Linked DNA regions of Homo sapiens. The protein of the gene in region 2 interacts with the protein of the main gene of each other region in a pairwise test. Each region holds a gene or a part of one and is shown on either strand. Other genes may lie near its edges. The genes, in order: RBP3, EFEMP2, RAB40B and DOK7.

Region 1 (7,165 bases), on a different chromosome or scaffold from region 2:
TGGCCCCCAGCTCGGCAGAGGCATAGTTATCAGCCACCAGCTTCCCGGCCGTCTGCAGCACCGTGGGCACCTTGGCACGCAGAGCCACTATGTCCTGGGCTATGGAAAGGGCTTCGCTCATGGGCACAGTGATGTCGGGCTCCACACCAGCCAGGTCCCAGGCCTTGCCTGTGGTGGCACTCATGGCCATCTGGGTGGGCATGGATGCATATAAGGGGCTGCTGCCCACCTGGTAGATGCCCACAGAGAGTGCGCCTCCGGCCGTGGGCTCCCCAATGACCGTGGCCCGCTGCAGGTCCTGCATGGTGTGTGCAAAGGCCTCGGCCGCAGAGCCACTGGTGTGGCTCATCAGGATGTAGAGGTCCTTGTGTGAGCCGTAGCGCTGGCCGGCGACCTGGGGCAAGGTCCACACCTCCGTGACTTTTGAGGTGGCCCTGTCAAAGACAGAATACAGGTGCTGGCGGGGCTCTGCCTCAAAGAAGTAGGAGCAGAGCAGCGGGATGGCCGTGGAGTAGCTGCCAGGGTTGTAGCGCAGGTCGATCACCAGCGCAGCCGTGTCCACCAGCTGTTGCCATACCAGCCGCACCAGCTGTGGCCCCACGGCCTTCACTGTCTCCAGTTCAGCCATGGCGTCAAAACGCAGGTAGCCCAGCTGGCCGGGCAGCACCTCTGTCTTGAACAGGGCCTCAATAAGGTAGGTGAGCTCCTCTGGAGAGGGGACAGCAGGGGGTGGTGGGGGTGCTTCCTCTACCACCAGCTCGCCAGGGCTGTGGAACACTAGCAAGCGGTGGTCCCCAGACACCTCCTGGAGGTCTGCTGTGAGCTGAGAGGCCAGAGACTCCAAGTCCACAGCTGTGCGGTAGGCGCCCTGGGCCAGCTTGGCCCGCAGGAGGGCACTGGTCTGCCCCACGACCTCTGGCCGAGCATAGTGGGCCTCCAGCAGGTGCCCTGTGCCCTCCACCAAGGCCCCCAGGCTTTGGTGGAACTCCAGCACTTCCTGGGCTTTGTCCAGGGCCTCCTCGGCCAGCACGATGGCATCGGGCACCACTCCACCACCCAGCCAGGCCTCGCCGTGATTGTCGATGAAGGTGAGGACCGGCACGGTGAGCGCGAGGCTGCCTTCGGGTGTGTCCAGCAGCGGCACCGTGCGGGTGTGCAGCAGGTTGCCCGCGGTGATCTCACCTACCAGTGTGGCCCAGCCCAGCGACTGCATAAGGAAGGCGAACTCCTCCGCGGCCGTGGCGGTGCGGTGGCTGGTGAGCAGATACACCCCACGTTGGGTGCTGTAGCGTGGGCCCGGGAGCTCCATGTGGCTGAAGTGCTCCTGCGTGATGTTGGTGCGGCGATCATAGGTGGTGAAGAGGTGCACGGGGCCGGCCTCAGGGCCCTGGAAGTAGGACAGGAGCAGGGGCACAGCAGAGGATGGCCCTCCAGGGTTGTGGCGCAGGTCCATGATGAGGTGCTCCGTGTCCTGTAGCGGCTCCCACACCTGGCGCAGGACATATGGGGCCAACACACCCAGGACGGAGGCGTCAGCAAAACTATCGAAGCGCAGGTAGCCCACATTGCCTGGCAGCACCGACACCTGGAACACAGAGTCCACCAGTGCTTGCCGGATAGCCTCGTCCTCAGGCAACTCTGGGGCCACCCCTGGTGAGTCTTCGGCTGCAGCGTCGGGCGCGGGCCAAGAAGGAGTTTCTGTGGGCCCGATGGCTCGCACCAGGAGCCTGGGATCCTCAGACGCAGCCTGCAGGCCGGCATTGAGCTTGGTGACCAGATCTTCCTCGGAGACCACCGTGGAGAAGTCCATGCTGGCCAAGTGCTGCAGCAGGGTGGGCACACGGTCCACCAGCGTGTAGTAGTCCTTCAGGACCTCCTGGAGGCAGTGGACTACCCCTGGAAGGGCGCTGCGCAGAGTGAGGATGGCCAGGGCTTTCTCCAGGGCCTGCTCGGCCGGAGTCCCCACACAGGGCAGCACCCCGCTGCCCTCCCACGTCTGGCTGCCTCCACCAAGGGGCCCCAGGGACCTGGACACGGGCACCGTGAAGAAGAAGTCAGACTCGCCTATCCTCAGCTTCCGGAGGTCCAGGGCCCCTCCCCCAGTCCGCTCGCCCACCACGATGGCCCTGCGCATCTGCTTAAGGATGTGCGCGATGTCCTCGGCCACGCCCCTGGTCTGGCTGCTGGTGAGGACCACCACATCCTTGTCGGCACCGTACCTTTCTCCCAGGACCTGGGGCAAGGTCCAGATCTCCGTGGTGGTGTTGGAGGGGCGGTTGTAGATAGTGTCCACGTGCAGGATGGTGTTCCCTGGGTGCAGGTAGGAGATGATGTAGGGAATGCCAGAGACCTGGCCTCCTGTGCAGTGCCGGAGATCCAGCACTAAGGCGGAGGTGCCCATGAGATTCCCCCACACGTGGGCCACCAGGAACTCCCCCATCATGCTCAGCACCTCCTGGCCCGGGACGCTGTCCACCCGCAGGTAGCCCACATTACCCTCCAGAACCTCATGGCGGAGGCCCCTTTGCAGCCAGGCAAGCAGTTCCTCTTCTGAGAGGCTGGTGAGTGCTGGGACTTGTGGGGGAGGCTCGGGGGTGCTGGGCTCATAGGAGATGACCAGGCGAGGATCGTTCAGGGAGCTCTGCACCCCGGCTGTCAGCACACTGGCCAGCGTCTGCGGGTCTGAGATGCTCAGAATCTCATGGCTCTTGATGGCCTGCTGGATGGCTTCCTGCATGCCCAGCAGGTTCTCCGGGAAGCAGTAGTTATCCAAGAGGACCTTGGCCATGTCCAGCACCAGGCTTGGCTGGAACAGGTGTGTGGGGCCAGCCAGGCCACAGAGCAGCACGGACATGAGCAGAACCCATTCTCTCATCATGGGGACCCAGGGGGAGGCCTGGCTCCTGCACAAAAGCTCCCTGGACTGTGTGCAAGGCCGTGGCCCTGCTCTGTGCAGCTGCCTTCCGCCCTTGTCCTTCTCAGCTGGTGGACAGAAGGTCTGGGGCTAAACTCCTGAGTTGGGGCAAGGCTTCCAGCTCCAGTAAGCCTTTAATCCTGTCTAATTCAAGCACATCAACCCTGGGTATCGGGGAGGAGTGGCCAGGGTGGTTTGACCCAGAAGGTACATTGCATCTTATCTTGCTGTGTTGTGTCTGCATATCATAACATTAATCACTGCCATTATTTTAGTTCCTGCTACATGCCAGACACTGTGCTCCATCCTTTACAAGCTGACAGTTTCCACCAGAGCCTTGCAAAGTCCAGTTATTAACTTGCAAGTCCTCCTTGGAGAACTGTTCTGCCACTGTCTCTCCCGTGGCCTCAGGGAAATGTCTTAATTACTTATTGTGTAGATTAAATGAGAAAATATGTGTAAAGCACTTCTTCCCAGTACCCAGTAAGTAGGAAGCACTCATTACTGGTAAGTTATCTGTATTAGATATTACCTCTGTTTCATAGCTAAAAAACAAAAAAACAAAAAAACAAAACAAAACAAAGCAAAGCAAAACAAAACAGGCCAGAGAGTTCTGTAACTAATAGAAGCCCATCGTTTTAGGTGTGGACAGATAGGGGGTGCAGCAAGAAGAAGTCCTTGGGGCTACAATTGGCCCATACAGTGCAGAGGCTGAGTCTGAGGCTGGCATCAGCCTCAGAGCTTGAGATTTATTTCTATGTCCCTTTAATGCCTCCAGGGAACAGAACGGGTCCCCCTACAGCTTTCTAATGCTGGGAATGATGTGTCTGGACCACCATGTAGGGTGTGGAGTGTAGAGGCGCCCACCTTCCAGACATCACAGGACTAGTGTTCCCATTCAAATGAGGTTAGCTCTGAGAGTTAATGGCTAGAGGGGACTCCTGCTTCTTGAAGGCTCAGCCCACAGCCTGCAGTTCGCAGGGAGAATCAAGCAGGAAGTCTTGGGTCTCCGTGGTCCCAGGCTTCACATGGAATCCAGATCATTCCTCCTGACTGCATAAAGCACAAGAAACAGGGAAAGGTAGACTGCTGAACTCTTCAGATCCCAGCTCCTGCCACTTCTTATAGAAATAATGTGGGTGCTGCTTGCAACTGACTGGCTGTAGAAATCCAAGAAGTCCTGCTATGGGGTCGGAACCTGGAAGCCCTGCTTTGCCGCTGAATGCCTCTGGAGATGGGCACTTTCCTCACTTAACAGACAGACAACTACGGCCCAGAGAGTGGTCGCAAGGCCAGGGCAGAGCGTTGGGAGAGCTGTCCCAAGCTGGCTCCAGCAACACCGCCTTGGCTGAGCGGGCAGCAGGCAGGCGCCCCTGTGTGCCTCAGTAGGCAGCTGGAGAAGGTGGTCTCAGGGACGTGGGCTTTCTCTACACAGCTGAGACCCACAATCTGCTCTTTGGAAATCATTATCTGAGGATGTTTACCAACTGCTTTATGAAGGCCAAAGAGGTCAATTAGCTAAAACAAACATATTTTTAGCTCATTAGGATTTGTGTAATGCTCAAGTGACATATGGTCACATCACTCCACCGTATGCAGCCAATGGAAGTGAGCCTGATTTACGATGAGAATGGGGTGGGGCTGGGATGCTGCCAACACCTCCGGATGAATGCACTCCTTGCATATCCTTAGCCCTGCTGGGAAGCCTGGGCCTTCTCCTCTGCCTCCACTTGGAGAATCACAGTTCTGAGCATGCACTTCCGTGTCCTCAGAGGGCACTTGTCTGCCATTGCTTGAGTCCAGGCAAAGCTTCTGGCCCAGAAAGGGCTTGGGGGAGAACAGGAGTAAGACTGTCTTTGGGGAAAGGATTCCCTGGAGTCTTACTAAGATGTAGTTTCAGGATAGGATTGTCTGGACCTATCACTGGGATTTGATTTGTGTGGCTAGCCCAGAGCCTTAAGAAGGACGTGAGAAAAAATCAGACTGTTGCAAGTCCCTGGGGTGCCTGAGTTGGATGGGGCATGGGTAGAGAAGCAGTGCTTCTCCTGTGGGTAAGGCCCAAGCAGGTGGAAGAGCAAGTTCTGTCCTCAGAGTTCTCCAGACTCCAGGGGGCCAGGGTGTCCTTGCCCCCAGGCCGTGGGGGGATGTAGGAAGATGGCAGCCAGCCTCCTTAGCTCATGAGGAGAATATGTTCTGGGTAAGTCCCCAGAGTGAAAGCCGAGAGCTCTACATCTTCCCATCCAGACCCTGACAACTGTAGGGCCAGGGTGGGTTCAGAGAGTCCACTTGATCTTGGGGGCTGAGTTTTGGAGTTGGAGGGGGCTGGAAGGCCCTGCACCCCCTCACTTATACAAATGTCCTGTGGGCAGAGCTGTGCAGGGTAGCTTAGAAGCCATCCTGAACTGAACTGGTGAGAACTGAATAGGTGAGTGGGTGAGATCTTGATAAGGTGACATGAGACCTTGATCAGGCGACATGAGACCATGATTAGGTGACTCGACTGCTCTGAGCCTTGGCTTCTTCAAAAGGGAAAACAGAATAAGGAGAAAAGCCTCAGTATTGCTGGAGGATTAGGTGTTTCCATCCTAGAAGTTATGAAAGGAAGTTGAGGACGTAGGAGTTGGTGAGGGGCAGCTTGGGTCTGCCTGGGATTAGAACACCCCTGTGGTATTAGGGAAAGTCATTCCAAGAGGCTGGGGCTGCCCTGGAGACCTGGAGTCCTAGGGCTTCTTAGGCTCCAAACCTTTCCTGGGCCTCTACATATCTAAGGAGAAATGACCAGACCCAGGCTCCAGAGCCCAGCCCTGCAGCACCTGCAGCGCAGGTTAAGAGGGGGACAATGACACATCAGGGCTGCTGCAGGGATGGTCAGGGAGCAAGCGGAGCTGGGCAGTACAGGAAGGAGCGTCTTGCCTATTGCATCACAGATGTTGTCTTTTCAGTGGCCAAAGCCCTCGTCTGTCTATTGTTTTATGTTAGTTTTCCCCTCGATGTTTTATAATGGAAATGTTCAAGTGGTACAGCAAATATCTATATGCCATCATTTAAAGAAATGCTTTGACATGTTCACATTTTAAAGAACTTATCCGAGCAGATAGCGATTCATGAATCTGGTAGCTCCCCACAAGAGGCAGTTTGGGGCTCTGCAAGGGAGCACAAGGGGAGGCTTCCACAGGGTGAAGGCAGAAGTGGAATAAATATTACAGATGCTTTGGTTGCTTAGCGTTTCGGCCCTTGCATGATTTGGGACATCCTAGTGGAAAGTTCGAGACCATGCAACTGATGTCCAGTTGGCCATCAGTGGTTGGCTGGACTTAAGCTTCGGTTTCTTTTAAATTAGCTGCTTACAGTAAATGAGTCTGAGTTAGATTTCAATTTGCTCTTGTAGGAAATCAGGGCGTTAGAGCCACCTTAGTTTAATGGCTGCCTCCCTAGATTCTACCACAGACATTTTATTACCCCTTTCTCATCTCAGCTCCGCCTCACTAGCCTCTTCTACCCTGCAAGCCTCCTCTCCCCTGCAAACCAACACATTTTTAAATGCACTTCAAAGCAAATTGAACCTTGACTTTTTATTCATTTTATGTATTTTCATTTTACTTTTTTCTTAAATCAGAGGAGTAAAACATACTCATTTTTGTAGAAATGTGCAAACAAACCTTTTCCAAAGCTTTTAAAATCCAGCCTCCTTTAGTAACAAATAATCAGCATTGAATGTCTAGCCATTGTCACCTGTGTCTGTGTACACGCAGGGAGGTGCACATATAGGAGAGATCCATCCACACATCTATGGGCACCCCATCCATTTGTCCATCCTATTGTCAGCCGTTTATTAGCATAGATGATAATTTGCATTTTGTTTTACTCACTTAAACATACAACACAAACATCCTTCCCAGTTGAAGTATACTCATTAAACTCATCCTTTTAATGGCTACATGTAGTCTGGGGATCCCTAATCTAAAAATCTGAAATCTGAAATGCTCCAAAACCTGAAACTTTTTGAGCACCGACACAACACCACAAGTGAAAAATTTCACACATAAGTACTTAACACCAACTTTGTTTCATGCAAAAAATTATTTAAAATATTGATATAGTTACCTTTAGGCTATGCGTATAAGGCATACATGAGGCATAAATACTGTGTTTAGACTAGAGTCCCACTCCCAGGATATCTCATTATGTACATACAGATATTCCAAAATCCAAAAAGAATCTGAAATCTAAAACACTTCTTTCTCCAAAACT
Region 2 (7,647 bases):
GGCATAGCTAGGGCCTGGGGGTCCACAGAGGAGTACACAGCAGGGATGGAGCTCTCACCACTGCAGGAGAAGCCATCCCGATGCAGCTCATAGCCCTGGTGGCAGCGACACAGGAAGGTCCCATAGGAGTTGAAGCAGCGCTGCTCGCATGGGGCCCCCATGTCACACTCGTTCACATCTGGGGGTGCCAGGAAAAACAGGAGGGATGAAAGCGGAGGAGGAGCCCAGAGCCTCCACTCTACCTGGGCTGGTCAAGAAGGGAGCGCCCCCACCTCACACCTCCCTGCCCAGGACCCAGGAGCCTGGCCCAGCCCAGCCTCACCAACACAGGAGCGGTTGTTAGGCCCCAGCTGGAAGCCCGGCTCGCACTGGCAGCGGAAGGAGCCAGGCAGGTTCACGCAGCGGTGCTGGCAGTAGCGGTAGCGGCACTCGTCTATGTCTAGGGATAGAGGCAGGAGAAGGAGGGCGGAGGGCAGAGGGCAGAGGGCAGGTGGGCTCGAGCCGGCTGGGACTCAAGGCTTCACCACCCATAATCCTGTGTCCGAGGAGCTGAATTAGGCAGGGTCAGCCAGGACACCTCCCAAACACTCCCCGCTACAGTCCTCTGTGTCTGATGACGGAGGGTGAGGTGGCAGGGGCCGGGGGTGAAGCCTGGCTTGAATGGGGGTCAGGTGCTAGGGCAAGGGCCAGACCAGGGACACAAAGCCGGGACTACAGAAGCTGCTTCCTGGACTCACCCACACACTCGGGCCCGATCTTGCGGTAACCATCAGGGCAGGTGCACTGATAGGAGCCAGGCAAGTTATGGCAGTCCTGGCTGGGGCGACAGTCGTGCAGGGCCTGGGCACACTCGTCCACATCTGCGAGAGACACCACTCAGCCCCTGCCTGGGATCCCGCACACCACCCAACATGACAGATAGTTCCAACACTTGTATTCGGTTCTCTCAACAGCACGCGTAAGAGTTCACCAGCCTGGAGCCATCAGGAAAGGCACCCCTAACCTCTAAAACCACATGTTGGGGGTTGCACAGGAAATAAGGTCCTGTCCAAACATCCCCAGCAACACTGATTCCTGGACTGTCCTTCCTCCAAGGCCTGTGGCTCCCAGGGGACAGACACTGGAAGGCAGACTTCCTGCAGTGTCTCTGCAGCAACCGAGGGGAGGGGCCCGGAGCTGGCTGGAGCAGTGGCACACAAGCTGGGGCCACCTGCGGCAGGTCCTAAACAACATGAGTGTCTGGATGAGGGTGTGGACATCACCAGTGGCCCTTTTGAGCTGGGGAGGAACATGAGGTCTGAGTTTAAGACGCCTGGTGAGAGGACTGGAAGCCAGGCACCAGAGCAGTCCCCACTCACCCACACAGCTGTCCTGATCGTCGGGCTCATAGCCTGGTGGGCAGGGGTTGGGGTGTTGAGCGGGAGGCACTGGTGGCGGGGGTCCCTCGCCGTGTAGGTCGTTGATGACGGCAGCGGAGCGGGGCAGGCACAAGTAGCCCCCGTAGTGGTTGATGCACTTCATTTCCCCCTTGCAGGCCTCAGGGATGGTCAGACACTCGTTGACATCTGCAGAGAGGGGCCTGCTGGGCACAGCCAGTCTCCTGGGCTGGCCCTGGAGGGAGCGGAGGCAGGAACCCAGCTCGGCCTTCTCTGAGATGTGTGGCCCCAGCAAAGCCTTCCCACTCTGCTCAACAAGCTAAGTCTGCCTGCTCAGGACCCCTCCCCAGGGTTGGCCAAGGCTGGAGATGGGGCAGCTGTTCCCACTGTTGCCCTCATTCTCGGCCTGCAAGTGGGTCTCTATCCCTCCCCACGGCCCTAGCCCTAGCTCAGCCCAAGATGGGGGGCCTCCTTACCCACCCCTGGGGACGCTACCCTCCCAGGTTGTGATGAGACAAAGAGCTGGGACAGGAGAGTGGTTCAGAGAAGGCGTACAGGATCCAGCTCCTCTGAGGGGTAGGGACAAGGTTTCCTGGGTTTCTGGGAGAGGATGAGGCCACCCCTAGCTCAACTGGCCTCCAGAGAGCCAGAGCTGGCCTCTGTGTAGCAGAGCTGGGCATAGAACGGGCTGCTGGGCTCCCACGGCAGTTCTTGGAGGTGGGGCTGTCCCTTGGAAAGCAGCTATCAATCCCTTTCCGGGTTCCTGGGGGTGTTTGGTCCCCCAGGCACACACACCCCGGCAGTGCTGGCTGTCTGGGTCCCACTCATAGCCATCTGTGCATTCCTGGAAGGGAACCAGAAGTGGCCAGTGGTCACCCTAAGATCTCCTCCAACTGGCCAGGCCAAGACTAGGGCCTGAGCCTGGCCACCCTCCGGCCTGCTCCAAACAATGGCCCCCAGCTCTCCACCAGCCAGGGGAGGAAGACTTCCCCGGCAGCAGTCACCCTGGGTCCCGGTCTCTTCCTCCCTACCCTTCCTGTCCCAGGCCAGCGGCCCTCACTGTCCCCACCGTGTAGCTGTCGGGCTCTTCAGAATCCTGAGGAGAAGCTGATCCCAAGAGCAACAGTAGCAGCGCCCAGAGCAGTAGAGACCCGGGTAGGCAGGAGGCGCAGGGGAGCATCCTGGGGCTGCGAGATGGTGGACACGGGTCAGGGGCCTCTGCCCGCGGCACCTCAACTCCCTGTACCGGGAGCCCGAGCCCAGCCCCCGCCACTGCCCGCTCAGGACCGTGCTTGGGCCTCGGGGCCTCCCAGGGCTGGGGGCCGACTCCTCACAGGCCCAGGTCCCAGGCCCGGGTCCCAGGCCCACCCGCCCCGGCCACCCCGCCCCCGCCCCGCGCCCCTGCGGCGAAGGCCGAGGAGCGCGGGCCTCTGTGGGCGCTACGCTGCCGCGGACTCGGCCGAGACTCCGGCCCACGCCCTCCCCCACGGACGGTCACAGCCACTCACTTGGGCCCGCGACACCCCCGCGGCCCGCGGCTCTGGCGGCTCGGCTGGCTCGGGCAATGCCTGCGGGCAGACGGACGGGCGGACGGCACAGCTCCCTGGACGCGCGGCCCCAGGAAGCGCCCCCCGCCCGCCCGCCTGCCGCGGCGCGGCCCACCCCGGCGCCTCCGCCCGCCCTTCGGCGGATTCCTGAGCCAGCGCCAGGGGGAGGGACCCCGACCCCCCGCTTCTCCGCCCCCGGCCAGCCACAGGCCCCTACCCGGTCCCCCGCGGCGCCGCCAGGAGCCGCCTCCCGGCGCCGGACCAGGGTCCCCCAGTGCTCGATCCTGGGGCCCCGACCTTGATGCCAGGCCCCCAGACTCACCCGGGGGCCCCCAGACGCTCACCAAAAATGTCATCCTGCTCACCTAGGTCCTACCTAATCTGCGCCCCCAGAATTTCATCCTGTGCACCCACACCGTAATCCTGGAGCCCCCAGATTCTCATTGTGCGCCTCCCGAGATCGTCCTGGGTACCTAGAGCCCACCTAACCCAGTCCTCCAGACCCTCAATCTGCTCCCTGCAAAATTTTATTCTCTGCCCCAGACCGTCATTGTAAAAGATCCTAAAACTTCATCCAGGGTCCCCAGACCCTCGCCCAGGAACGAGAGGCTCCCAGGAGCAGAACTGTCCTTCTCGCTCCCTCCTGCCCTCCACCCCCAGGACCGTCTTCAGCCGGGTGGTCCTTTCACTACACACGGCCTCCCCCACACCCTCCATCCACAAAGCTACAAGTTTGGGGGCGAGGGCGGCAGTTCCCTTTTGGCACAAAATGAATGGAAGCCCCTGAGAAGGAGGGCAGGGCTGATGTCGGACGTGCGGGATGCCAGAGTCGGGTGCCAAGGCGCCTCCTCGACCTCCTCGCACCAGCGTCCCCCGCCCGGTTTCCGCCTCCGCCCGAAGTGGGGGCGTGTCCTTGGGGCGGAGTATGGGCGGGGCTGGCTCCCAGGAAGGGCGTGGCCTCTGTTTGCCCACGTCTTTGGGCGGGGCCAGGCGGGAAAGCACTGCGTGTCCGGGGATCCCCCGCCTGGGGCCCGCCCTTCCTTTCCCCTTGCCATCCCTGCTTATCCCCGCAGTCGCCCTCCACGTGACCCCGGGGAGGGAGTCTGCCGAGGAGGGGACGTGCTGGTGGGTCCCGCGGCGAGCGCCTGGGGCTCAGGTGAACTGCGCAGTGCCCGCTCCTCGCCACTCTGCCACCACCATCCCTCCCAGCTGCTGGGGCAGAAGGTTAAATAATAGCTCTTTAGGGGCCGGACGCGGTGGCTCAAGCCTGTAATCCCAGCACTTTGAGAGGCCGAGGCAGGTGGATCACCTGAGGTCAGGAGTTCGAGACCAGTCTGGACAACATGGTGAAACCCCGTCTCTACTAAAAATATAAAAATTAGCCAGGCGTGGTGGCGCGTGCCTGTAGTCGCAGCTACTCAGGAGCCTGAGGCAGGAGAATCACCTGAACTCGGGAGGTGGAGGTTGCAGAGAGCCCAGATCACACTGCTGCACTCCATGGGTGACAGAGGGAGACTCCATCTTAAAATAATAATAATAATAATAGGCCCGACGCGGTGGCTCACGCCTGTAACCCCAACACTTTGGGAGGCCAAGGTGGGCAGATCACAAGGTCAGGAGTTCAAGACCAGCCTGGCCAACATGGTGAAACCCTGTCTTTACAAAAACACAAAGAAATTAGCTGGTGTAGTGGCACGTGCCTCTAATCCCAGCTACTCGGGAGTCTGAGGCAGAATAATCTCTTAAACCCGGGAGGCAGTTGTTGCAATGAGCCGAGATTGTGCCATTGCACTCCAGCCTGGGCGACAGAGCGAGACTCCATCTCAAAAATAGTAATAATAATAATAGCTCTTTAAAACGAGAAAGACAGTAACAAGTGTTGGCAAAGATACGGAGAAACTGGAGCCCTCATGCACTGTTGGTGGACAATGGTCTGGCAGTTCCTCAAAATGTTATCACATGACCTGACAATTTCACTCCTAGGTATACATACCTAGGATAATTGAAAAGATATGTACACACACACAAATCTGTACGCAGCGTTTATAGCTGCACTATATATAAGAGCCAAATGCAGAAACAACACAAAAGCCGTCAACTGATGAATAACAAGATGCAGTACATCCACACAGTCGAACATTATTCAGCCATAAAAACTAATGAAGTACTGATGCATGCCACAATATAGGTGAATTCTTTTTTTTTTTTTTTTTTTTAATTGAGACGGAGTCTTGCTCTGTCGCCCAGGCTGGAGTGCAGTGGCGCCATCTCGGCTCACTGCCAGCTCCGCTTCCTGGGTTCACGCCATTCTCCTGCCTCAGCCTCCTGAGTAGCTGGGACTACAGGCACCCGCCACCAGGCCCGGCTAATTTTTTGTATTTTTAGTAGAGATGGGGTTTCACCGTGTTAGCCAGGATGGTCTCAATCTCCTGACCTTGTGATCCGCCTACCTTGGCCTCCCAAAGTGCTGGGATTACAGGCGTGAGCCACCGCGCCCGGCCAATATAGGTGAATTCTTGAAACTACTATGTGAAGTGAAAGAAGCCAGACACAAAAAGCCACATATTCCATTTATTTTTTATTTTTTTTAGATGGAGTTTCGCTCTTGTTGCCCAGGCTGGAGTGCAATGGCATGATCTCAGCTCACCACAATCTCTGCCTCCTGGGTTCAAGCAATTCTCCTACCTCAGGCTCCGGAATGGCTGGGATTACAGGTGCCTGCCACCACACCTGGCTAATTTTGTATTTTTAGCCGAGATGGGGTTTCACCATATTGGTCAGGCTGGTCTCGAACTCCCGACCTCAGGTGATCCACCCACCCTGGCCTCCCAAAGTGCTTGGATTACAGGCGTGAGCCACCGTGCCTGGCCCACGTATTCCATTTATATGAAATAACCAGAATAGGCAAACCCAGAAAAACAGAAAGTAGATTAATGGTTGCCAGAGGAAGGTGGGGAATGGGGAGTGTCTGCTAATGGGGTCTGGGTTTTCTTTGGGATAATGAAAATATTCTAACACTAGATAGTAGTGATGGTCACACAACTATGCAAACATACAAAAACCCACTGAATTGTACACTTCAAAAAAGTGAATTTTCTTTGGGAGGCCGAGGCGGGTGGATCATGAGGTTAGGAGATCAAGACCATCCTGGCTAAGACAGTGAAACCCCATCTCTACTAAACAAATTAGCCTGGCGTGGTGGCAGGCGCCTGTAGTCCCAGCTAATCGGGAGGCTGAGGCTGGAGAACGGCGTGAACCTGGGAGGTGGAGCTTGCAGTGAGCCGAGATCGCGCCACTGCACTCCAGCCTGGACGACAAAGTGAGACTCTGTCTCAAAAAAAAAAATGTGAGTTTTATAGTATGTAATAATACCACAATAGGCCAGGCACGGTGGCTCACGCCCGTAATCCCAGCACTTTAGGAGGCCAAGGTGGGTGGATCACCTAAGGTCAGGAATTCCAGACCAACTTGGCCAACATGACAAAACCCCATCTCTACTAAAAACACAAAAATTAGCGGGCTATGGGGGCGAACGCCTGTAGTCCCAGCTACTCAGGAGGCTGAGGCAGGAGAATCACTTGAACCGGAGAGGTGGAGTTTGCAGTAAGCCAAGATCGTGCCACTGCACTCCAGCCTGGGCAACAGAGCAAGACTCTGTCTCAAAAAAAGGAAATATAAAAAAAGGCAGGAAAGGGGTGCTGCTATCACCCCATTTCACAGATAGGGAGGCTGAGAGACTTGTCCCAGGTGAAGGATGGGACTTGCACTCATGTCCCACGGACTTCAAGACTCGCTGGGCTCCTTGCCCCATATTAGAGCATTAAGGACCCGCCCTGCAAACACCCACTCTGTGCCAGCCACAGTGGTGGGTGCTCCACTAAGTATCTTCCACTCAAGCCTCAGCCTGAGAATTGTCATTGCCAATTAGAGATGAAGACATGAGGCCCAGGGGGGATGACTTAGTGCACAGCTGGTGCACAACCTAGACCTGAACCTCCATCTTTGCACTATCCAGCCCGAGTGAGCCTTCCACTTGGAGTTGCCTCCTCAGAATGCCTCCCTCGTCCTCTGCACCCCCAGTGACTTTCCCTGCCTTCGCCTGCTCTGCACTGGGTCCCTTTCAAGGTCCCAGACACCACTGGATCAGTGTCTCCCTCCTACCAAGCAGGGAGCTCCTCTCAGGCAGTGAGGCCCCTGTGCCCATGGCCCAGCCCTTACTGGGTACCAGCTGGGATCTGCAGAGTAGGCAGTTGAATGAACAAATGAGTGAGTGGGTGGAGGAAGTTCATTGATTCACTCAACAAATGTTTTCTCGGCCGGGTGCAGTGGCTCACGCCTGTAATCCCAGCACTTTGGGAGGCCAAGGCAGGTGGATTGCTTGAGGTCAGGAGTTTGAGACCAGCCTGACCAACATGGTGAAACCCTGTCTCTACTAAAAATACAAAAAGATTACCCCAGCATGGTGGTGCACACCTGTAGCCCTAGTTACTTGGGAGGCTGAGGCAGGAGAATTGCTGGAACCCGGGAGGCAGAGGTTGCGGTGAGCCGAGATCGTGACACTGCACTCCAGGCTGGGCGACAGAGTGAGACTCTGTCTCAAAAAAACAAAGCAAAACAAAACAAACAATGTTTACTGAGTGGCCACTGTGAAGCAGATGCTGTGGTGCTAGCCAGGGACACAGCACTGACCAAAAACAGACCCAAACCTCCTGGCCTCAGGAGCT
Region 3 (6,249 bases), on a different chromosome or scaffold from region 2:
TCCAGCGGGGTTTGCTGTCATCATGGGAATGTAGAGGAGAAAAACCAGTATCAGCTCGAGTTCAGCACTGCGGCAGGGTAGGGACAGTGGTTTTATTTTTATTTGAGATGGAGCCTCACTCTGTCACTCAGGCTGGAGTGCAGTGGTGCAATCTCAGCTGACTGCAACCTCCACCTCCCAGGTCCAAGCAATTTTCATGCCTCAGCCTCCTTAGTAGCTGGGACTATAGACGTGCACCACCATGCCCGGCTAGTGGTTTGTATTTTTAGTAGAGACGGGGTTTCATCATGTTGCCCAGGCTGGTCTTGAACTCCTAAGCTCAGGCAATCCGCCTGCCTCAGCCTCCCAAAGTGTTAGGATTACAGACATGAGCCACCGCGCCCTGCCAGGACAGTGGTTTTAAAAGGCAGGTGCCAGCCTTTCTTAAGAGAAGAAAGTGTGTAAGAATCTGTAGATCTAAAGCAACAGGCCACACCTCTGAACATGACAAGAAAATGACAAAGTTTCTCTAAGGTTTAATTTATATTTATGTTTTTTGTATATTCACCACCCAAACACACAGTCTTCTACTTAGTCCGGTCTGTATTAGGTTTCGTCTGTTTTTGTTCTGCCTTGGTTTGCTGTAGCACTTTCTGCCGTGAGCGTAACTCACTTCCTTGTAGGAGTTTCCTGAGGCTGCCGTAACAATCGCCACAAACCTGGTGACTTAAATAACAAATATTTATTTTCTCGTAGCTCTGGAAGCCGGAAGTCCAAAACCAATAACTTGGCAGGGCTGTGCTCCCTCTGGGAGATCTCGGGGAGCCTCCTTGCTACATGTTCCGCTTCTGGGGACTTCTGGTGGTGTTTCCCTGGAGGGCCAAGGCCTCCGGGCGGCCCGTGCATTCGGTGAACACCTCCAAAGAGCTCTGAGTCACAAAGCCTTGGGAAACTTTATTTTATTCTTTCTAGGACATTATCAGTAGTCCCGAGGAGACATCAATTACAAAACAAGAAAAAGGAAGGAAGAGAAAAATACAGGTTTGGCCTGGTTTAATGTTGCAATGGGAGGATCCATTTCCTTACCCTTCACCATCAGCGAGCTGGGAACGGAGGGAGAAGAGGCCCCTCAACGTGGGTTTCTTCAACGTGGACTCTCCTTTCTGTGCATCTCAGTGTCCTTGTGTTTGCAGCTGGGAGGTCGGCCCTGTCGTTCTCACCCCACCTGTGGCACAGCAGAGAGAAGGGTGCACAGGTCTTTGCAGCGTGCCTGCACGAGGCTGGCCACCCTCTCCAGACACTGTCCCCTCAGGGTTCACCTTCTGCCCACAGACCACACCCCTGCCTCCCCGTGGACTTTGTCCCCGTGGCTGCCGTGCCCAGGTGGCCAGACACCCCCAAGCCTGGGTCCACCCGCAGGGACCAGTGCTCCTCTCTCCTGTCTGGGCCTCGGTTCCACCATCTCTGAATACAGGCTTTGCCCCTGATTCTAGGGTCCCTTAAATTTCTTTTTTTTTTTTTTTTTTAGATGGAGTTTCACTTGTCGCCCAGGCTGGGGTGCAGTGGTACGATCTCGGCTCACTGCAACCCCTGCCTCCCAGGTTCAAGTGATTCTCCTGCTTCAGCCTCCTGAGTAGCTGGGATTACAGGTGTGCGCTGCCATGCCAAGCCAATTTTTGTAATTTTATTAGAGACGGGGTTTCATCACGTTGGCCAGACTGGTCTTGAACTCCTGACCTCTGATCCGGCTGCCTCGGCCTCCTGAAGTGCTGGGATTACAGGTGTGAGCCATCACACCCAGCTGGGTCCCTTAAGTTTCTAAGAATCTACAGATCATCAGCAGGAACTAGGAACATCTGGGTATTTTCTCGCTTCGTTTTTTTGGTTTAGTCCCTCATTTGCGACCCCCAGCCACAGAGAAACGTTCAACAGTGTGACCAGGGAAGAGAGCGGCCCTGGAGGTCTTTGCGGTCAGCCCTGCTCTGAGGCAGTCGGGGTCAGGGGCTACATCTTCATGCGGAATTCCTGACAGCCCCTCGGAGCTCCTCACCGAGGCTCAGGAGCACGGCTCTGATTTCTCAGACAGGCACATGCCTGGGTGCCAGCTTTTAACTCTCCGCTCTCTCCTCCTCTGCACTTCTGTTCCGGAAAAGGAATCCTTTCTCAACAGGCGACAACAGTTCAAGGATTCAGCCTTGTTGCCAGTGTCGTGTATTAGCTCCGATATGTGATGTCTACACCAGGCAGTGGCGCAGTGAAGTAAAGGGCTATAAGAAATACACAAAATCTGGCCGGGCGCAGTGGCTCACGCCTGTAATCCCAGCACTTTGGGAGGCCAAGGTGGGTGGATCACCTGAGGTTAGGAGTTCAACACCAGCCTGACCAACATGGTGAAACCCCATCTCTACTAAAAATACAAAAATTAGCCGGGCGTGGTGGTGCACCTCTGTAATCCCAGCTACTCGGGAGGCTGAGGCAGGAGAATCGCTTGAACCCGGGAGGCGGAGGTTGTGGTGAGCCCAGATCGTGCCATTGTACTCCACCCTGGGCAACAAGAGCGAAACTCTGTCTCAAAAATAAATAAATAAATAAATACAAAATTCGAAAGAACCGGTCGCCAACTCTACCAAGAGAGAAACAACTATACATTTTATTGTTGAGAAACATTTTCCTAAATAAGTGTTTTCACTTCATTCTTTACTGAAACAGCTCTTCCTTGACATGTCGAAACTGTGCTGGCTGTGTTCAACATAACTAGAGGTATCTTTGGCATTTTCTTCCCTTAGCTTCATAACTTGTAGAATATCTTGTACAAAAAACTGTAGATTTACAGAAAAATATGCATATAAATCACTTATTAATCCCAAAATGTAGTAAATAACTAGCAAAAACTTTATCAAATCCATTTCATACACAAACTGGACAGATCAGTTGCACATAACCTCTACATCTGCAGCGTTTTATAAATTGGCGCTTTGACATTGAAAAGGAGGTTTACAAAAAGACCCCTCTCGTAATATCAGTGACTCTAAATTATCCCGCTGCCATTGCTTCTCAAATTCCATTGAATTTATACTAATCACTCCAATATCACCGTTCTTACAAAAGCAGTTATTTTAAGGAAAAAGTTGCAGTGCAATCATGATAAAGTAACATTCAGAATTTCATGTTACCAAGAGTCGAGCAGAGTACTAATTTTCCCTTTACAAACACACATCGAAAACAAGAGCTTCATGCACATCCACGTAGAAATTCGAAGTCCGACGGGGTAGTGTGTTTCCATCACACGGAAGGCGTCGCACACATTCGCAAGCAGCATTCGCCGAGAGGAACCGGGATCTGAGATGCATCCACCAGCTGCCGGGGGTAACGCCGAGCTTCTCCTGGAGAGATTCCGCCGTGTTTCTTTCAGTGCCTTCCTTAAGAAATTTTGCAGCTGTTTCTGGTGCAGTTTTTGGGGGGGCTCTGGGGGGGGCGGACGAGCTTCACTTTGCGGAGGCTGCTCCTTTTGTGGGTGGAGCTGGTGGTGAGGGAGTAGGAACCGCCGTGCATCATCCTGGCATTCAGGCCGTTGGCCATCGAGAAGGACTTGAGGTGGCTTCTTAAGGCAATGGGGAGCGGGAGCTTGTCCACCAGGTGCACCGGCGTGCAGGACACGACCGCCCGGCAGCAGAGGTCTTGCAAGCTCAGCACTTGGGAGAGAAAAGATAAACCTTGCTTAGTGGATGTCCCCACCTGGGCTGGGAATGAGGGGTGGTGCCCACACCTGTTCTCCCGCCCTCCCAAGGCTCGGACGCCCGTGGCCCTGGCTTGTACATGCAGCAAGCCCTGCCGCGACGTCCCCTCTGCCCACGTACAGATCCCAGGAGCTCCCTCATGAGCTTTCTGACAAAGCTGTAGTCATTACTTCTCTCAAATGCCTTGCTCTGAGAACGGACACAGTGGCCTTGAGACGGGTCCCGGGAGGCAGACACTTATCCAGGGGGCCGCTGACCCACCTCGGCATCTGGAGGGCAGAGGTGGCCCCCGGAATAGCCCCTGGGCCTACCCTTGCTCGGCCGCCAGAGCCGGTCCATCCCATGCCGCAGCAGCACGATCCTGGCCAGCTCCGTGAACGACTCTGTGATGTTGAAATTGCACAGAGGGCTGACCTCAAAGAAGGTCACGCCCAGGCGCTCGGCGTAGGCCTGGGCCTGCTCCGTGGGCACCTGCCGCTTGAACGCCAGGTGCAGGCGGTTCCCCACCAGGATCTTGGGGACTCCGGGGGCATGCTAGCGGGCAGGAGAAAGGCGAGGAGCATGGGTTACTTCAGTGAGATTTTGTTGTCGTCGTAATGTGGGTGCTCTGGGTCGAGGAACCCCCCACGAGTTCATGTCCACCCAGAACCTCAGCATGGGACCTCGTTTGGAAAGACCGTCTTTGCAGACGTAAATAGTTACGGTGCGGCCGCACTGAATTAGGGCCCTCATCTAATGACTGGTGTCCTTGGGAGAAGAGAAGACACAGACACTCGGAGGAGGCCATGTTACGCGAAGGCAGAGGCTGGAGCGGTGCAGCCACAAGCCAGGGAGGGCCCAGGGTTGCTGGCACCGCCGAGAGCTGGGAGAGGCGGCTGTAGGGAAGTGGCCCTGCCGACACCTTGGTTTTGGGCTCTGGCCTCCAGAACCGTGAGAGAATGCATTTCTGTTGTTCAGGACGCCCAGGTTGTGGTCGTCGGTTCTAGCAGCCCCGGGACACTCATACAGTGGGCTTAGTGTCGACCACGCCATGTCACCATTGCCAGGCGGGCTGGTCTGCGTGCCAGCAGGCACAAGCGCCGGTCACTGCTGGTCAGCCCAGCCCGACCACAGCAGGGAGTGAAGCAGGCCAAACCTGACCCCACGCATAGCCGAGGTACGCCGTGGACGCTCGTTTCGTCTGGACCAGCTTCCTGAGCTTTCGTGATTGTAGCTATCACCAAAGCCCTATCCAGTGTTGTGCCGAGGTGAGGCACCCTCCTTCCTGCTGGAGCGCCATCCGGTGCCCTGGCCTGTGATCCATGGGTACCCATGAGCCCTGGAGGGCCCGGCCCTAATTCCTGGCCTGACGTCCTCCCAAGCCTACAGGGATCTTGGGCAGTGGCATTTCTACAACATACCTCATCGATCTCCTTAATCCATCGATCAATGCCGTCAAAAGACCAGCGGTTCGCAATGTCATAGACCAGGATCACACCCTGGGGGAGAGGTCACAGGCTCAGCACGCAGAACACAGATGCAGGCACAGCTGTGGCCATGCACGCAAAGACATACAACTAAATAACCACTTTCCTTATTTTAACACAAAGTACATAATTTTGATTTATCAACTGAATGTAGCAGTTTTATGATCATTTTCAGTGATATTTCATAAGCTCAGTGATAAACCCTCAAATGTCACGGTGATCTGGGGACTAGAACTCACACCCACGAGCCACTCCAGGAACACAGGATGCAGGGGCACCGCAGTAATCGCCACCTCTCGAGGAGTGTGGCCCACTCACCTGGATGGATTGCACGCATACACGTGCACATACACATGGAGCTCACGCACACACAGGCACTTGTGCACAGATGCACGCACACACAGTGCACGTACCTGCACACATGTTGCATACACACACGCAGGCACTCATGCACAGACACAGTGCACATACCTGCACACGTGTACACACGTGTACTCATGCACAGACGCACACAGTGCATACCTGCACACATGTTGCATACACATACACATAGGCACTCATGCACAGATGCACACACAGTGCACACACGCAGTTCATGTGTGCACATGCATGCACATAAACAGGCAAGCACACACGTACACATTACACACACAAGCAGGCACTCATGCACAGACTCATACACAGGGCACGTACCTGCACGCACGTGTACACACACACACGCACAGGCACTCATGCACAGATGCACGCATACACAGGGCATGTACCTTCACACACGTGTAAACACACGCACAGGCACTCATGCAGATGCACGCATACACAGTGCAAGTACCTGCACACGTGTACACATACACGCACATGCAGGCACTCATGCACAGATGCATACACAGTGCACATACCTACACACACGTGTACACACACACACGCACAGGCACTCATGCCCAGATGCACACATACACTGCACATACCTGCACACACGTGCACACACACACGCACAGGCACTCATGCAGACGTATGCACAGTGCACGTACCTGCACACACATGTACACACACACACACACACAGGCACT
Region 4 (7,023 bases), on a different chromosome or scaffold from region 2:
CCCCAGCCCGGGTCTCTGCACTGTCACGGCCTCCCCGGGGACGCCAAGGGTGCGGGCAGGCGGTGTTGGCTGGCGTCCCTGACGGCCACGCTCCTTGCAGACTGCCTGCTGATGCTGGTCTACAAGGACAAGTCGGAGCGTATCAAGGGCCTGCGGGAGCGCAGCAGCCTGACGCTAGAGGACATCTGCGGGCTGGAGCCCGGCCTGCCCTACGAGGGCCTGGTCCACACGCTGGCCATTGTCTGCCTGTCCCAGGCCATCATGCTGGGCTTTGACAGCCACGAGGCCATGTGTGCGTGGGATGCCCGGATCCGCTATGCGCTCGGCGAGGGTGAGTGACGGGGGCCGGGGCCGGGCGGGGGCTCCCCGTTCAGGTGTGCCGGGGCCCCTCACCAACGTGGGCTGCAGAGGTGGGAGCGGCTCCAGGGAACCGTGCAGGAAGATGGGACATTCATGGGTGCCTTAGGGTGGACTGAGCTCCAGCCTGGGGGTGCCCACGAGGGTTTGGGAGGGGGAGTCTGCTGGGCTATGGTGTCTTTAGAGCTCCCTAGCCTGACCGTTAGTTACAACTGGAGCCTTTAACCCAAGCTGGTGGCCTTTGGAGGGACGTGGCTTCCCAAAGCCCTGCCCTTTGCTTCCTACACTGGACAGTGGAGCCCAGAGCCTGGCTAGGAAGGAGAGCCCCAGGCTGGGCGGTCCCACCCCAGCTTCCCCCCAAAACAGGATGGGAGGGAGGGAGGGAATAGAGGGAGGGGAGAGGGAGGGGAAGGGAGTGCTCCCCTGTGGAACTGGCCCTGGAAGAGGTGGAACGTCAGTCCCAGCCCTGCAGGGGCTTCGAATGGGTGCCTGGGGGCCTCTGGGGGCTGAGCTGCCCTGGGGCTGTGAGCAGAGGTGGGTGGTGATGGGGCCCTGGGCACTCAGCGGCAGAGCAAGCATAATCCTGCATCTCCTAAGAAACCAAAATCAGTGCCAAAACCCCATAATGAGCAAAACAGTAGAATGTCCACTGAGTTGAGTCCTGGTCCTACCCTGGCACCCACCCAATAATCCCAGCAGCCACAGCTGCCCTCCCTTTAAAAACTTGCTATTTTAGGCTGGGCACGGTGGCTCATACCTGTAATTCCAGTACTTCGGGAGGCTGAGGTGGGTGGATCACCTGAGCCCAGGAGATAGAGACCAGACCACCCTGGGCAACGTGGCGAAACCTCGTCTCTACTAAAAATACAAAAATGATGGCCAGGTGCAGTGGCTCATGCCTGTAAACCTTGTGCTTTGGGAGGCCAAGGCGGGCAGATCACCTGAGGTCAGGACTTCGAGACCAGCCTGGCCAACATAGCGAAGCCCCATCTCTACTAAAAATGGAAAAATTAGCCTGGTGTGGTGGTGGGCACATGTAATCCCAGCTACTCAGGAGGCTGAGACAGGAGAATCGCTTGAACCTGGGAGGCAGAGGTTGCAATGAGCTGAGATCGCGCCATTGCACTCCAGCCTGGGCAACAGAGTAGGACTCCATCTCAAAAAAAAAAGAGCTGGGAGGTGGAGGTTGCGGTGACCTGAGGTTGTGCCACTGCCCTCTAGCCTGGGCGACAGAGTGAGACCCTGTCTCAAAAAAACAAACACAAAAAAACTTGCTATTTTGATCAGCATGGACTCTGCATAACTTTACTTTTTAAAATATTGATTAAAATATCCTGGCCCTTGATGGCTGAGTTCTTTGGCCTTGGAGGTGAGTGTCCCGCTCCCCCAGTCTTGTCCCCAAGGCAGCAGCCCCTCCTGCTCCATTGAGTGGGGAGAGAGAAGCTGGGGGCTTAGTGGGAGGAGGTGCGGTTGGCTCTGCAGGAGGGCGCAGGGGAAGGAGACATTAGGAGGGAAGAACTGCATCTTTCCAGAAAGTTCTCCCGTTGGGGGTTCCCTCCAGCCTGGCTCAGCGGCATGGGTCTGCTTCCTTCATCCGCTGGCGCAGGGCCATGGCACAGAGGCCGCTGGGCACCGCCCAGGCAGCTTCATCTTGATAGAACGTGGCCTGACAAGGATGCGCCTGAGGCCACAGCTTGGAGCAGGTAGAGGAGGCAGAGAAGGGGGAGGTGGGATGGGAACAGGGGTCCCTTTGGCTCTGGGGGTTGGAGATGGAGCAGGTGGGGCCCCTGGTGGGGAGGCTGCTGTCTGCCTGGTGTGCTGACCTGGGAAGACAGGGGAGGTGGGGACAGCATTCAGGACCACTGTCCTCTCTGAGGCTTTCAGGGGCAGGGGCCTGGGCAGAGCCAGTGCACAGGACCATGGGGGTGCTCAGGGTTTGGGTGAATGGCCACCTGGATGGAGAGAGGGCCGGTGGTGCCCTGAGGTTCCCGTGGCCAGGCTGGGGCCTCGATACAGACTCCAGACTCTCCACACCCGAACTGGAGGCTGGGGGATCCCTGAGCCTCGGTTTCCCCTTCTGTGATGGAGCCACACAGCTGTGGAGAGAGAGCCTTCCTGGAGAGGTGCCGGGGGTGGGAGCCCAGCCAGGGCACTCAGCTGCCCTGTCCTCCCTAGCACCTCCGTGGTGGGAGGGGAGGGAGGTGGAGGTCCGAGGTCAGGCCCCTCTGGGACTTCCTTGCCCCTGAACAAAGATAGTTCCTGGGAGGATGGCAAGGAGAGAAGTGCAGCCCCCAGGCCCCCTCGTGGCTGTGAGGAGTGCCATTTGCTCATCCTGCCGTCGCTGCCTCCCCGGCTGACACCTGGGCGGCTGCCCCCACCTGCCCCAGCCTGGCCCCTGCCCCTGCTGCCTCCTCCCGAGATGCCCTCTCACCCCACCTGTCCACAGTGGCCCCTGTTGCCTCCTCTCATGATGCCCTCTCGCCCCGCCTGACCGTGATGCCCTCTCGCCCCGCCCACCCTCGATGCCCTCTCACCTCACCCGCCCATGATGCCCTCTCGCCCCGCCTGCCCGTGATGCCCTCTCACCCCACCCGCCCGTGATGCCCTCTCACCCCACCCGCCCGTGATGTCCTCTCACCCTGCCCGCCCGTGATGCCCTCTTGCCCCGCCTGCCCGCAGTGCATAGGTTCCATGTGACAGTGGCTCCAGGCACCAAGTTGGAGAGCGGCCCGGCTACCCTGCACCTCTGCAATGATGTCCTCGTCTTGGCCAGGGACATCCCCCCGGCTGTCACGGGGCAGTGGAAGCTGTCTGACCTCCGGCGCTACGGGGCCGTGCCAAGCGGATTCATCTTTGAAGGCGGGACCAGGTGTGGGTACTGTAAGTACGGATGTGTGGGGTCACTGGGCAGCAGCAGCACCCCCCACTTCCCCTGAGAACTGCTGGCTTCGGGCCGGCCGACCCCACTTGCAGGCTGGCCTGCTGGCATTTCCAGAATGCGCCGGCAGGTGGACGGAGTCTCCCCACGCTCGATGTCCAAGGTCCTCTGCCCGCAGGAACCTCAGTGTGGAGTGTCGAGGAGGGGCCTCGGCTACCTCTGCTCTTCCTCACTGGAGGGAGAGAGTTCAGGGATGCGAGGAGGGGCCTGAGGCCACAGAGCCTCAGAGCCGCTCATATCCAGATTTCATGGAAAGGAAAAAACAAAGAACAAACGCATTTAGCAGTGGGGAGTGTGAGCTCCCGCATAAGCACCGCAGAAACATATTCTTGGACCAAGAATTCCTGGTGGACATGCCAGCCACCCCGCCTGTGGGCCGCCCAGAGCTGCCCTAATGTCCCCAGTGAGGTGGCCAGGCCGTGGGTGGGGATGGCCTGAGTCCTCTGGGCCTGTGAAGGCCTGAGAGCTGTCCTCACTCAGCCAGGGGAGTGAGGGAAATCGGAGCAGGAAGGCACCCAGCCCTGCCCAGAGAGTCTGAGGTGCCCGCCGGGGCTGTGCAGGAGCAGGTTGTTCCAGCAACCCCCTCCACTTTCTCCCATGTTGGGTGCAGATGCGCCAGGTTGCCCTGTGGACCTGCAGTCCCCGCGGAGGGTGTGACGCCTCCTCTCTTCTCTCTGGAGGGGCAGCTGCTCATTGGCCGGGCTGAAGGCGGGCAGAGGGACCTCCTGTGGGCCTGGTTTGGGGCTGAGAGGACTGAGGGACTGCACTTGGCTCACACTGGTGGGGGCTCTGGTGGAGCCTGGATGTGTCTGGGTGGAGGAAACGCAGGCAAGGACACGGGCCACACTGGCCGCCTGGGACCTCATCCTGCAAAGGCCAGCTGGGGCACGGGCGCAAGCCCATCTGGGTGCCACGTTCTGCCACCTTCTGCGCTGGGCGCTGGGAGCAAACCCAGTAGGTCTTGTGGCAGGAGCCAGCCCTGTTGGGGCCTTTGAGGAGACGACATCTGACCCTTGAAAGGGGAACAGGGCAGTGAGGCTCAGGCTCCACGGACTGGGGGCGTACACAGCCAGCTGCAGGAGGCACGTGCGGCAGAGCTGGCCCGGAGTCTCGGCCCCTGGGGCTGGCAGGGGCCATAGCCAGAGTCCAAAGGGCCTTGGCCCCTCTGGGATTGGAGAGCCAGTATGGATGGGCAGGGCCGCTGCCTATGCCAGCTGTGAGCTGGTGCGGGGGGTGGGGTGGGGGGTGGTTCCCGGGAGAGCTAGGACACCTGTCGGGGTCCCATCTGCCCCCAGGCCCTCCCTGCGGCAGGCCAGAGGTTCAGTACTGGGGCTTCGGGAGCCACTGGGGAGTGGGTTGGCGGTGGCTGGGCACAGTGGGTGGGCCCAGCGTCCCTGTCCTTTGTCGTGTGGGAAGCCAGAGCTGCAGGCTGTAGTTGTCCTGACACAGGCAGCCTGTCCTGTCTGTTGTGTGCTAGGTTTGGGGGTGCCTGGAGGAGGGGGACCCATACCTTCCTTTCTGTCTGTGGAATTCCTTGGCACGGGCAGGCAGCCGGCCGGGGTGGCGCCGCGTGCTCACCCTCTAAGCCGGGGCACAGCAGGAGGACCCGTTTCCTTGGAGACCTGCTTATTTTGTCTGGGCCATAATGGAATGGGGACACTGGATGTTTTTCCTCTGAGGCCGTGGAGGTTCACATCCCTGCCGAGGTGTGGGTGGCCCCTTTTCCGCTGGTAAACAATCCCACACCTGGGGCTGTGCTTCTCCCCAGGGCGAGGCTACTGTGCCGTTTTCCTGGGCTGCTCAAAAGCTGGGGGCACTCTTGTGGGGCCGTCTGTCTTGCTGCTGCCTCTCCGGGGCAAGCTGTTAGAGCAGCCCCACCCGCAAACCTGCAAACCAGGCTGGCCCCACAGAACCTGAAAACCTGCAAACCGGGCTGGCCCCACAGAACCCACAAACCTGCAGACTGGGCTGGCCCCACAGAACCCGCAAACGGGGGCTGGCCCCACAGAACCCGCCTTTGCAGCTCAGTGCTGAATGTTCTCGTCCCCGGTGGTACCCTGGCCTGAGAGAGGAAGGGCTCTGGGAATTCGGTCACCGACGGCTGCACACCCCGTAGGGTAGGTGGGTTCTGGAGGCCAGGCTGGAAGGCTTGGCCGAGCCACCCATCCCTGTCCCCAGCAGGCCCTGCTGGGCTGTATCCTCCTGGAGACAGGCGTGGCCACCACCCTGGGTGGTTTAGGCTGGGTCTTAGACTCGGCCAAGCGGTGGTGTTCTCAACGCAGCACTGAGTGCAGGCCGTCTGGCTGGAGGGACGGGGAGTCTGCGGCACGTGTGGGCAGCCTGGGGCCTCCTGCGGGAGGGAGCCGGCAACTCGGGTGGTCCAGGGGCAGCGGCATCAGCTTCCTGGGGCTTCTGTAGCAGATGACCCCCAAGAGAGGGCCAAGTGTCCAGAACGGGTTCCTTCTGCAGCCTGGAGGCCAGAAACCCCAAATCAAGGGGTCCTCAGGGTTGGCTTTTTCCAAAAGCTCTTGGGGAGGACCCATGGGAAGGTCCTTCCTGCCCCTTCCAGCCGCTGGTGGCCCCGGCGGCCTCGGCTCGTGGCTGTGCCACTCCAGTCCCTGCGCCTGCTGGCTCCTGCGTGAGCCTCCTCTTCAGTCTCTTGCAGTCTGTGGACTTAGGGCCCACCTGGATGACCCAGGGTGACCCCATCCCGAGACCATCAATTCCATCCGCAGAGGCTCCTGTTCACAGGCCCTGGTATGTGAACACATTTTGTGGGCCACCATTTGGCCGACAACTGGGGCCACTGGGACGGAGAAATATCCAGAATCTGAATCCCAATAAGTCTGTGGGTGTCGTCACATTCAGTCTGGAGGTCACAGCTGGGCTGGAGTCGTGGGAAGGCCCTGGAAGTTCTTGGGTGTAGGAAATCCACATTCCCTCCTTCCCCAGGGACAGGTCCTAGCCTGGCCCCCGATCCCCAGAACCGCCTCACTTGGCCCCGCCACAGCCAGCTCTGCAGAGAGCAGAGAGGGTGACCCTGGCCCAAGGCGATGGCTGCGCCTCACTCATCCTGAGACACTGGGCGTGGCTGTGCATCACGGGGGCCCTGGTGGGGGTCGGGTGGAGACAGGCCTGGCTGGTCTTGGTGCCTGGGGGGCAGAGGTCTCTCTGTGGACAGCTGCCTGTTCAGAATGGGACAGGAGGTGGCTTGGTGACAGCAACCCCCGGGTCCCCAGTGTGGCCCAATTCCCCGTCTCTGTTGGTCACGGGCCTGTAGTGTGGACTCCTGGAGCTTGGCCCGAGCGCACTTGGCACATGGCAGGCGACGGTCTGTGGACAGCTCAGGTCTGCAGGCTCCAGCCTCACACACGGGCAAGTGACTGGGCCCCGCCTTCGGGGATGGACTGTGCGTGGTGGAGAGTGATGCAGAGAGGGCCACTCGCCCTGGGACAGGCTCAGCTTGCAGCACAGACGGTGGTGGGCCCCAGAGAGGGTGAGCCCACCCAGAGCCTAGGAAGGGAGGGCTTTGGAGGCGCAGGGGGACGTTTGAGCTGGGCCTTGAGGGTGAATGGAAGCTTTTGGAGGTGCCCCCTTTTTCCCCCCTTACCTGCTCTCTCCAGCTGGGTCCAGTCCAAGGACCATATCTGCCTCTTTGCCCAGCCTCTGGGGGCCGCCCGGAGCATTTGAAACTCATTTTGACTTTTAAAAATGATTAAGAATGTGGC

Evidence for each region.
Region 1: the proteins of EFEMP2 (region 2) and RBP3 interact in binary tests that used the Homo sapiens proteins (3 or more experiments, as listed by UniProt).
Region 3: the proteins of EFEMP2 (region 2) and RAB40B interact in binary tests that used the Homo sapiens proteins (3 or more experiments, as listed by UniProt).
Region 4: the proteins of EFEMP2 (region 2) and DOK7 interact in binary tests that used the Homo sapiens proteins (3 or more experiments, as listed by UniProt).

What each region holds. Positions count from the first base shown.
Region 1 is NC_000010.11:47,344,198-47,351,362, reverse strand, and holds the start of RBP3 (retinol-binding protein 3 precursor), read right to left. Parts: upstream 3,001-7,165; 5' UTR 2,879-3,000; coding exon 1-2,878.
Region 2 is NC_000011.10:65,869,799-65,877,445, forward strand, and holds the start of EFEMP2 (EGF-containing fibulin-like extracellular matrix protein 2 precursor), read right to left. Parts: upstream 3,003-7,647; 5' UTR 2,885-3,002; intron 2,564-2,884; 5' UTR 2,557-2,563; coding exon 2,446-2,556; intron 2,221-2,445; coding exon 2,172-2,220; intron 1,566-2,171; coding exon 1,359-1,565; intron 861-1,358; coding exon 738-860; intron 440-737; coding exon 323-439; intron 179-322; coding exon 59-178; intron 1-58. UniProt on the Homo sapiens protein: Plays a crucial role in elastic fiber formation in tissue, and in the formation of ultrastructural connections between elastic laminae and smooth muscle cells in the aorta, therefore participates in terminal differentiation and maturation of smooth muscle cell (SMC) and in the mechanical properties and wall integrity maintenance of the aorta.
Region 3 is NC_000017.11:82,654,464-82,660,712, forward strand, and holds the end of RAB40B (ras-related protein Rab-40B), read right to left. Parts: intron 5,195-6,249; coding exon 5,117-5,194; intron 4,251-5,116; coding exon 4,028-4,250; intron 3,672-4,027; coding exon 3,400-3,671; 3' UTR 510-3,399; downstream 1-509. UniProt on the Homo sapiens protein: RAB40B small GTPase acts as substrate-recognition components of the ECS(RAB40B) E3 ubiquitin ligase complex which mediates the ubiquitination of target proteins.
Region 4 is NC_000004.12:3,473,306-3,480,328, forward strand, and holds part of DOK7 (protein Dok-7), read left to right. Parts: intron 1-100; coding exon 101-331; intron 332-1,634; exon of another isoform or gene 1,635-2,453; intron 2,454-2,995; exon of another isoform or gene 2,996-3,036; coding exon 3,037-3,237; exon of another isoform or gene 3,238-7,023. UniProt on the Homo sapiens protein: Probable muscle-intrinsic activator of MUSK that plays an essential role in neuromuscular synaptogenesis. Acts in aneural activation of MUSK and subsequent acetylcholine receptor (AchR) clustering in myotubes. Induces autophosphorylation of MUSK.